2 separate regions of the Homo sapiens genome follow, and region 2 is linked to region 1. Evidence: fine-mapped expression QTL. A gene starts in region 1. The other region holds a variant in brackets. All regions are shown on one strand. Distances are from middle to middle. Region 1 holds the start of INSYN1-AS1 (INSYN1 antisense RNA 1). Region 2 has its middle 13 kb from the start of INSYN1-AS1.

What was found. PIP is the estimated chance that this variant, and not a neighbour inherited with it, causes the effect.
Region 2: its variant is the best candidate, but not a certain one, in a credible set for the expression of INSYN1-AS1 in esophagus mucosa (GTEx, PIP 0.86).

The regions. Positions count from the first base shown.
Region 1 is chr15:73,765,067-73,770,437 of GRCh38, reverse strand. INSYN1-AS1 (INSYN1 antisense RNA 1) reads right to left here and starts at 2,352. Exons shown (of 3, transcript NR_120353.1): 1 at 2,252-2,352; 2 at 1,578-1,685; 3 at 636-968.
Region 2 is chr15:73,778,481-73,783,851 of GRCh38, reverse strand. No RefSeq gene overlaps it. Among named protein-coding and RNA genes, the nearest start is that of INSYN1-AS1, 13 kb to the right of the region's middle. The variant C/T (reference allele first, on the strand shown) is at 2,546.

The sequences.
Region 1 (5,371 bases):
ATCCAGAAAACTCAAGAGAATCAACTAGAAAAGTAATAAGAGACTATGAGCGAGGTCAGTAAGATGACCAGTTTTGAAATAAATACACTGGCAAAGTCCAATTAGAAACCTTAAGAAGAAGAAAACTGAGGAGTGAGGCAGTAGCTCAAGGGTACTCAAGGTTGCAGAACAAGCCCAACCACCTCAAAGGTCTCCTGTTAGGGCCCAGCCTAGCAGGGAGGGGGAGAGAAAGATGGGGTGCACCAGCTGGAGCTGCAGAGGGCAGGGAAGTGGGGAGGAAAGGGGTATCCTGAAACATCTTTCTGGGCTGGTAACAGTTGGGCTTGGACTGGGAGCTGCCCTGTTGGGGGAATATCCAACCCTGTGGGCCTGGTTACCAGCAGCCCTGGCAGACAGCAGCTCAGGCCAATGGGATGCAGGCAGTTCTGAGAGCCGGTACCTGACTGCTGGGGGCTCCAGGATGCAGCAAGTCCAGGGTAGAGGACTGCAGACCCTGATGGAGAACTGTCATCCACTGCGGGGCACAGAGTCCAGCAACGAGATTCCAGCTAAGTGTCGCTGAACATCTGATGGGCTGATTACAAATTGGTCCCCTGGATTCATTAAAGTAGATTTCCCAAGAGAAGCTGTCCACGGCAGAGTCACACCCAGCCAACCTTTGAGCTCCATTCTGATGTCAGGGGCTGGCTCCTCAGCTCTCTGCCTCCAGGCTCCTGGCAACTGGGCCCTTTCTTGCTTGGGGTGGCATGATTCCCCTGGAGGCATCCGGCAGGTCTGCAGATGCACAGGCACTAGATGCAGTGCCCCCAGGGCCATTCTCAGAAAGTGAAGCTTGATTTTTTTTCTCCATCCATGGTGTGAGTATGGCATGAAATGCATGCACGGCTCCTCTCACATGATGAACAATCTCTGGGATTTACACCCAAACTTCTCCTTTCTCTCTTGTCCTCCTCACTCATGGGCCCCATCTGCATGAGAAGAAAAGAGAAGAAGAGAAGAGAGGAGGAGAGGAGAGGAGAGAAGAGGAAAGGAGAGAAGAGAAGAGAAGAAAGAAAAAGAAAAAGAAAAAACAAAAATCAAACAAACAAGACATCACTCATTCCCCCCGTCTACCCTCCCACCCCACCCCACCCCATTTGCTCCCCACCCACTCATACAACTGCCCCTGTCCAGGGAAAAGACAATTACTTCCAGATAAGATGTTGCCATTTACAAGGAGATTTCATGCAAAGCAATGGTTGGAGCTTCCATGGTAGAATTTTAGGACAATATGTAGGAGTACAATATTTTAGACATTGAATTATGTGAGGATCAAATAATTGAAAGCTGGAATTTTTTTTTCTTTTTGAGACGGAGTCTCGCTCTGTTGCCCTGGCTGGAGCACAGTGGCATGTTCTCCACTCACTGCAACATCCACCTCCCAAGTTCAAGCAATTCTCATGCCTCAGCCTCCCAAGAATCTGGGATAACAGGTGGCCACCACCATGCCCGCCTAATTTTTGTATTTTTATAGAGACGAGGCTTTACCATGTAGGTGAGGCTGGTCACAAACTCCTGACCTCAGGTGATCCGCCCACCTTGGCCTCCTAAAGTGCTGGAATTATAGTCATGAGCCACCACGCCCGGCCAAAAGCTGGAAATTAATGAGTTCAATGCAGACTTCAAACTTCTTGAGGAGGCTGTGGCTGTTGAGTGGTGGAGAGGAGAGGAAGGGAAGGAGGGAGGAAACAAACACATATTGAGCACCTACTCGGTGCTTTCCCTGTGATGTCCCATGTAGGCCACAACCATAGAGTGCAGGCATTATTTATGCCTGGTTTCAAACCCTGGTCACTTGGATCCCATGATCCTGTGTTCCCAAGCTCCAGCCCCCAGCTGCTCCTGAGAAAGTCAAGCTTCAGAGAGCAGGGCTCCCACTCCCAACCAGATGCTCATGGCTTTCTCCTTTCACACCCAGGCCTCTACTCTGCTGTTCACCTACCTTGGTCTTTTTATCTGCCTTGGTGCCTGGAATTACCGGATCACTGCTTCCTACCTTGGGGTCAGAATTGCCCTCCCACAGGTACTCTGTGACCACACAGACATCCCTGTGGGGGCCACACTCAGCACCAAGCCCTCATGGAAAGCAACTTTTTAGGCAGGATGGGGTGGGGCACAGAAAGGAAAGGTGGGGCGGCGGTTTCTGTTGCAGGTCCTGGCCTGGCATGTCCCCAGCCCCCAACCTTCCCTCTTCAGCAAGCTCACTGATTACCTGGAGTCCTCATCCTCAAGGCTGGAGTCTGGGAGAAGACTCTTGGAGGTGGGTTTGTTTGGCCTAATTCACCAAGGCCCCCTGGCTCCCTTGGTCTTGTCACCATGGAAACCTTGTGAGGTCACCAGCACCATTCAAATAAGAGAAAAAAACGTTTCTCCCTCCCACAAAGTGAGCTCCTAGTTGACTCCAGTGGCTTCTATGGAGGAACCGGAGGGCGGGGCCCAGTCCGAGGAAAAGACCTGGCCCAGCCCTCAGGGATGGGTTAACCCCTTGATGCCCAGATGATGGCTGCTCAGACTCACGCCTTCTGCCTCTCTGAAGTTTCTCAGGCATCTGTGCCCCGGAAGAGTGAATCCTGCAGCTTTGTATACACACCAAACAGCTTCATGCTATACCTGGAAAGGTGGGGAAGGAGCTCTGAATCCAGGCAATTCTAGTGAACAAAAACTGCCTACTGGAGATTCAGGGAGCTGTTGAGAGGCAGGGAGCCGGGGGAGAGAAGGGAGCTGGAGCTCTGGGTCCCTGCTTCAGACCCTTCTCCCTCTCAAGCAAAGGTGAGAGTAGGAGCTGCCAGGTACAGCTGGTACAAGAGCACAGGGTATTTTACCTCTCCCCATGCCCATGCATTCTAAGGTTGGCTCAGCTACTGAAGGCCCTTCACACCCGCTTCCTCCATGCTGCCAGCATGCCTGGGACACTTGCCTGCACTGGAGAGGGCCTAGCCTACCTTCTGCCTCCATTTGAGGCCAGCATGAGGGCCAACAGCTGGCTCCTCATCCACTTTTCTTCTCTAGCAGGCCAATCGGCTCTGACCTATCCCTCCCAGGACCCAGAATGCCTCCCCGTGCTGCCCTCCTGGAGTCCACATTCTTCTCACTACTTCCAGGACTCTTCCCAGCACCCACTCCTGCTGCACGTCTCCCCCACCATCCCCTCTGGCCAGTGGGTCTCCTCACTGTTCTAGGTCTAGAATATGCTGCTTCCTTTATTCACATTCCTAAGACAACCTCTCTCTCCCTTTGTATCTATTTTAATCCTGTATTGCATTCCTTCACCATCATCTATGCACTTTCACCTTTCTGTTTCCACAACACCCCAGCACTACCATCAGCACCAGGCTTCCCATCAGCACCAACTCCACTCACCACTATCGTGAACCACCACCATCCCCCTTCTATCACGCTGCCCCTCACCACTGTCACATCTTCTCACCATTGTCACCACCATCCCACAGTCAATGCCACACCACCATTTCTACCATCACCAACTGTCAACACCATTCTCACCACCTTCTTAACCACCATCACAACATAGCTGTGACCACAACCACCATTCCTACCACCCTACTGTCAGTACCACCACCACCATCTCCCTTATCAGTGCTGAACTCACTATTACCACCACAGTTACCATCACCATTCTTACCACCATCATAAGTCATCATCACCAACATTGTCACCACTACCACCACCATAACTGCCATCCTATTGTCAACACCAGCACCACCACCATCTCCATCATTGGCACTGCACTCACCGTCAGAACCACTGTTAACCTGTTACTACCATTGTCCATACCCTCATCAATATCACACTGTCATGACCACACATTGGTATCATCATGACCATGCACTCATCGCCACCACCATCATTTGGAGGGAAATAATGTGTTCCTTCATAAAATCAATCAAGCAATCAATTTCAAATCCTTCAAGAGAGGCCATAAAAGAACCTACATAGAGTGAAACAGCTGGACCTCACGGCCCCCATTCTTGCTCCCTGGGATTCTGTATCCTTTGGATAATCTCACACTAATTGGCTACTGTTGCCACCAAACTGGCCCTAGGAGCTCTTTCTTTAACACCTCAAGGCACAGCTGAGATAGAGCTAGAGCATTCATAGTAAGTGGGACAATAATATTAAACAACTGATGAGAGTATAAACTGGCACGAACTTCCTGAAGAGTAGCTGAACAATACAAGAAAAATCTTTGAAAAGTGCATTCTCAGAAATCTTACTTCTAAGAAGTTATCATAAGGCAATAATTAGATAAATTTGCAAAGATGATGTGTGGATGTTATAATAACAATCATTGGAAACAGCCTAAATGTATAGCAAAAAAAGAGATTGTTTAAAGAAACTATATGGATTAATATGCAGCCATTAAAACAGAAAATATAGATTTGCCTATTGACATAAAAATATGCTGACTCTATATTGTTATAAGCAAAAGCAGGTTTCATATCAGCATTTATAAAATTATCCTCTAGTTCTAAAAGTGTAATGTCTTCACGAAACAAGATGAAAATATTTTCACACCTGGCATCAAAATTCTTCTTAGATGGAAAACTGTCTTTGGGAAAAAAAAAAAACTTTGGTAAACTATCTAGACATACAGTGATTGCAAACCACTCAGCATGAGACAAGGAGAGGAATTCCTTTTGCTCCTGAGGAAGATGGCAGAGAAAGGTGAGATGATCAGAGGAGAAGGGAGAGCCAAAGAAGTTAGCATGGAGGAGATGGTGCAGATGCCAAGAAAAATGCCTAGTGAGGTGGGGAGTGGGGGAAGGCCTTTTAATTTCCCAGATCATTGCTCTTTCTCCAAAGTTGCTTTTGTGGCCGGGCCCCAGAGCTCACGCCTGTAATCTCACCACTTTGGGAGGCCGAGGAGGGAGGATTGCTTTAGACAAAGAGTTCAAGACTAGCCTGGGAAACATAATGAGACCCCCGTCTCTACAAAAAATATAAATAAATAATTAAAGTTGTTTGTGTGGCTACAGTATGAACCATTTCTTCTTTTCCCCCATATCAAATTTTCAGTCAAGTCTACTGAATGCTCAGAGTTTCTGAATGAAGGATTTTTCTGTGAGAATTGGAAAAGGGGCCAAGTTTCAGGTCTGATCCACCCCAAAGTGGTTCTTTCTGGTGGAAAAAAAATTAGGGATGACTTATATATTTGTTAGTTTTATTTGTATCTTCTAATTTTCTAAAAGAGACAGAAAAGAAAAATAGTAAATATCAGGGACCACAAATGGGGAATACATCATAAAGTCAGAGGGAAGTGAAGAATCTGGGTTACAAAATGTGGCCTATGTCCTCTCCCATAGACCCCAGGCTG
Region 2 (5,371 bases), 13 kb before region 1:
CCCAGTAAAGGAGGAAGCCTCTTATAAAAACCATCAGATCTTATGAGAACTAACTCACTATCATGAGAACAGGATGGGGGAAACTGTGCCCCACGATTCAATTATCTCCACCTGGTCCTTCCCATGACACATGGGGATTATGGGACCTACAATTCACGATGAGATAGCCATAACATATCAATGATGATGATGAAATTGACCCAGCATCCTTTGTTGGAGTCCTCATTGTACAAGAGGTACTGTGATGTGCCCTGGGTATGCATTATTTCATTGGTGACAGCCTCACGACAACCCTTTGGAGGCAGCATCTTGTTATTCCCTCATTTTTTCCCAGAGGTGCCATCTGAAGCTTGGAAAGGTTAAGTAGCTTGCCCCAATTACGGAGTGGAGACAGGAAGGCTTCCTGGAGAAATGGCTTTTAAGGGATGGGAAGATGGCAGGAAGGCCACAGTGGAGATGGAGGAGAGGGCAGAGGGCAGGTGGGTGCTAAGAGTAGCAGGCAGTCCAGACAGAGTGAGGCTGGTGATGCGGGGAGGGGCCAGCAGGGAATGTTGCAGCAGATCCTGGAGGTGATAGGGAGCCATCGAATGTTTCAGAGCACAAAAGTAATGGAAAAATGCGTTAGGGACAGTGTTGTAGGGTGGGGAGAAGGAGCTGGAATATAGCAGTGCCAGGAGGGTGGTCTAGCCCCTGGCTCCAAAAGCCTGCACTCCTGGCTCTTAACCAACAGGAGAGGAGGTTCCTGGAGCCCAGCAGGAAGGATTCTGGCCCAGAACCACCTTTGGCCATACCACCCAACCTCAGGCAGCAGGCTGCCATGACACTCAACCTGGTAAAATGGGAGTCAGCTACTCCTCTCTGATCCTCAGTTTCCCCATATGCTCTGGGTTGCTACTGGTTTCTTCCAGCCATAGGAGGGCCTGGATGGGCTCCCTGCCTTTTGAAGAGAGCTCTTGAATCCCAGGGACAAGCACATTTAATGGGAGGGTTTCAGGCCAACCTCCAACTTTCAAGCAGCAACTCCCTCATCCAGAACAGCTGCTCAATTACCTCTTAATCTTCTTGATGGAGTGGAGCCAGCCAACCACTGCAGGTCCACGCCAAGTCCCCAAGCCACATCCACAGATCATACCCTACCCCAGAATTCCCAGATGGCTGGGTGGAGGTGTGGAGAGCTCAGGACAGCTTTTCCCTCATACCCAAAACTGCTTCCCTGTGCCAGTGGGTCAGACCAGTAGCCTGGAAGAGACAAAGTTTTAGCCACAGAGACCTGGTTTGAAATTCTACCAATAATGTTTGGCGCTAGGCCTGGAAGGCCCTTCCCAACCTATCCATCCACTCTGGGCACCCTTATTAGCCATGAACAGCTGCCTCTAGGAGTGGTTTTATTAGATTCATTTAAACCTCTGGTTTGGAGCAGGTTTGGATGGTGGGATTGGAAGACAGAGGATATAGATGGGGCAGGAAAGGAAGCCAAGAAAACCGAGCACTGATAACTAACTAGGTTGGGGCGTTCATCTCAAAAGCCAAAAACGAGGGGCCCTGTCCCAGCTAGAGCTTCGGTTGAAACCATTCCATTGCAGGAGCCTGGTAGGAAGTTCCCCAGGTCCATGACAAAACACACACAGGTGTTTGTGTACACAGATGTGAGCGCACATGTGCACAGACACACACACACAAACACATGACCAAGCAGTAATCTAGGAGAGGCTGTGGACTTACTTTTCCCTTCTGAAGATTTTCTTTTCTTTCTTTCTTTTTTTTTTTTTTTTTTTTTGAGACGGGGTCTCGCTCTGTCACCCAGGCTGAAGTGCAGTGGCATGTTCACAGCTCACTGCAGACTCAACCTCTGGGGCTCAGGCGATTCTCCCAAGTAACTAGGACTACAGGCATGTGCCACTATGCCTAGCTAATTTTTAAATTTTTTGTAGAGATGGGGTCTCATCTCACCATGTTGTTCAAGGCTGGTCTTGAACTCCTGGCCTCAAGCACTCCTCCCACCTTGGCCTCCCAAAGCTTACAGGCATAAGCCACCAATGCCTGGCCTCTGGAGATTTTCTGACATCATGTGATAAGCACGTGTCCACCATATCCTCATCCTGGAGCTGATGAAAGTACTAGTACTGTGCAGGACTGAGTTCTGAGACCTGCAACTGGAGACTGGAGGACTGAGCCGTAACTGCTTCCCTGGGAAGCCTTTTCACTGATTCTTTCAGGACAGTGGCCTAGAGAGGTGGGATGGGGAGGTGTGTTGGAAGGCTATCCTTCTGCAGTGATGTGACTCAGACCAGAGCATAGTGGCAGGGGAGTAGTGGAAGGGAAATACAGGTTTTTATTTTCACCCAAGCACTTTGGTTTTGGGCAGAAGCTGCCACAAGGTGTCAGTAAAGGCTCAGAGAGGTTGGCTGACTGGTCCAAGGTCACACAGGCCTTCTGATGCCCAGACCTGGGCATTTCCTACTAGACCCAGAGTGATCTGCTCTGTCTGAAATTGGTTGGCAGAATCACGGGGCAAGCTCAAGAAGGCCTGAGCGACCTTGCTGGG[C/T]GGTAACATAAGGTAACTTCCTGGGCTCAGGCCTCCAAGGGGGAAGGCTATGTCAGATTACATCAGTGAAATGGGAGGAGTAGGGGATGAGCCTGGGCTCTGCAACACTGTGTGAGGCTGACATTGATGGCACAGCAGTGACCTCTCCCCGCCCCCACACCACCCCAATTCTTCCTGAATGATCGTGGCGTAACTACTACTCACACTTATCTGCATACCTTCCTTCAACCCCCAGAGGAAGCCACTTCATCAGTCAGTCAGATAAAGAGGCCAGGTCCTTTCTGCTGGGGTTTTGAGGCTGGTCCTATTTAATCTCCTTTTCTTCAAAGGCAAGGAAAGGCCTTGGCAGGCTTGGGACCCTCTGATGCTCCCACCCAGAGAGGGGCTCTCTGCTTTGGGGTCTGGCTCTCCTTTCTGCCTGGCCTTGTGTTGAAAGCTCACTTCCTCTACTGGGCTCCAGGGCCCAAGTTGCTGGGCACAGTGGGGGCAATGGTTAGCATTTGTTGAATGACTGTTGAAGCGAGACCTTTCTGGAGTGGCCAGCTTCCCCCCTGCCTCTGCTGGCTCTCACAGCTAGGGGGCTGAGGGCTGTGCTTTCTGGGGTGGGTGACCACCTGTAGCAGATGCTCCTGGCTGGTTGGCCCAAGCCTCTCCACACCCCTTTTTCCCCAGCCACCTTCCAGTGACTGGCCTAGAGATGGCCACGGGACCCACTTCTGGTCAATGAGATAGGAGTGAAGTCACCGGGTAGGGCTTCAGGACATTCTTTCTAGAAGGTACAGAACTGGCATTCCCCTCAGCCTTTCCATCTTCTTTCTGCCTGGAAGTTGGATCTAGGTGTGGAGTTGCTGCAGCCATCTTGCAATTATGAGGCAACAAGCATGAAGACAAAGGCTTTCACACTAAGGTTGGTGGAAGGGACAATGAGAGGAGCCTGGAGCCTTGACGGCCTGGTGGCCCCAGACTGCCCATCCCTGAATTTCTTTTTATATGGAATAAATACCCTCCTCACCCCCACTGCACCCTAATAAACAGTTAGGACACTATTTATTAGGTTCTCTCTTACTCACTGTCAGATGCATCCTTAATTGTTTTATCACCCTCCTCCAGTTAGAAATGCTGAGCTCGGGTAGAAAGGGATCTCTTTCCCCTGACCTTGATATTGGCAGGAAAGGTCAGAACACTGAGCTTCCAATGCACTGTGAGTCCAGGATCCTTTGGAGCAATAAATGGCCTGGAAATGAGGCTGACTTTTGAGTGACCAGTAGCTTCTCTAATAGACCGAGCTCAGGGACCATGCAGTGTCTTCCCCTTCTGTGGAAGTGCCCTGCTTTTCTTACCCCATGCTCTCTCCCAGTTCCACCAGCCTCCTGACTAACTCCTAGTGTCTTTCAAGACTCAGCCTGTGTCCCCTCTTCCAAAAAGCCCCTGCCACCCCCATCACCCACCCCCAGGATGGGTCAGACATTTTCCCTTGTACCCCTACAGTACCCTATGCCACCCGTAGCACAGCATTTGTCACCAAAGATGTCATGGACCATGTGTCCATGTGTCTGCCTTGCACCAGATGAAGTGTCTTTTTAACCTTTCTAAGCTGGGTACCTAGAGCAGGTGTTCCAGTCATTCAGGAAGTCATTGTTAACTTGCTCATTCATTCATTCTAGGTTTACCGAGCTTCTCCTAGAGATCCCAATGCCAGGTGGAGCAGCTCTGCTCTGCTAAGCTGTCACAGGGCCCAGTGCACCTTGCATAGTGGATCCTCAGGAACAGTCCCAGAAGGTTGGCCTCAGGGATGGGTCCTCCAGCCACAGGCCTTGCTCCTTACAGCTTACCAGAGCAGGGAGAGGTGCAAGCTTGGAGCCAAGATAGCAAAGTCGGATCTCATTCTTGGCATTCTGCCTCCTCCCCCACCCCACTCTGCCCTGCCATTCAATAAGGAGGAGAGTCAAGGCCAGAGTGTCCACATGGGGGGTAAATAAAACTGGGGGTACCTTGCAGGGCCTGCAATTATAATCACCTCCTCCAGGACTCAGATTTGGGAGCTGAGGATTAAGGAGGAGGCATGGGCAGAGGAACAGGACTGCTTCTAGAACTCCTAAAGAAATTGAATTTATAGTCAAAACTCTTTTCACAGAGAAAACTCCAGGCCCAGATGATTCTCCTGGTGAATTCTTGTGAATATTTAAGTGTAAATAAACAAACCTTATTATGCAAACTCCTCCAGATAACAGAAAAAGAGGAAATTCTTCCTAAGTCATTTTATGAGGCCAGGGTGATGTTGATATCTCAATTCCCACATCTGTAAAGTGGGGATAATAATAGGTGGTGCCCACCTCTGAGGTAGGCAGCAAGATTTGGATTAAGGGAGTTGTATGTATGGCCCTTAGCATGATTCCTGACATCTAATATGTCCTCAATGTTAGATGCCAATAATTGACGTGGCCAAGCCCCAATTCAGGCCAAAGCCTATGTCTCATCTGCACCATGCTGAGTCTAGAATGGCATTCCTTAGACAAAGGGAACAGAAAAGAGGGTTGGGGAATGATGTTGAAAACAGCCCCTGTCCGGTGATGGCCACTTAGCAAACTTGATCTTGCTGAATCCTCACGAACACTCTTCAAAGTAGCTATATCAATCCCATTTTACAGGTAGGAAAACTGAGGTTCAAAGAATCTGCAAGTAACTGTATAAAGTCAAAGCCAGGCCTGTCTTCAACATAAAGCAAGTTACTAACCAACCAATCCGTGGCAACAAAGCTCTCTGACCTTGGGCTGAGGCTATCTAGATTTAAGGGTTCCTTTCTCTCTCTCTTTCTTTTTCTTTCTT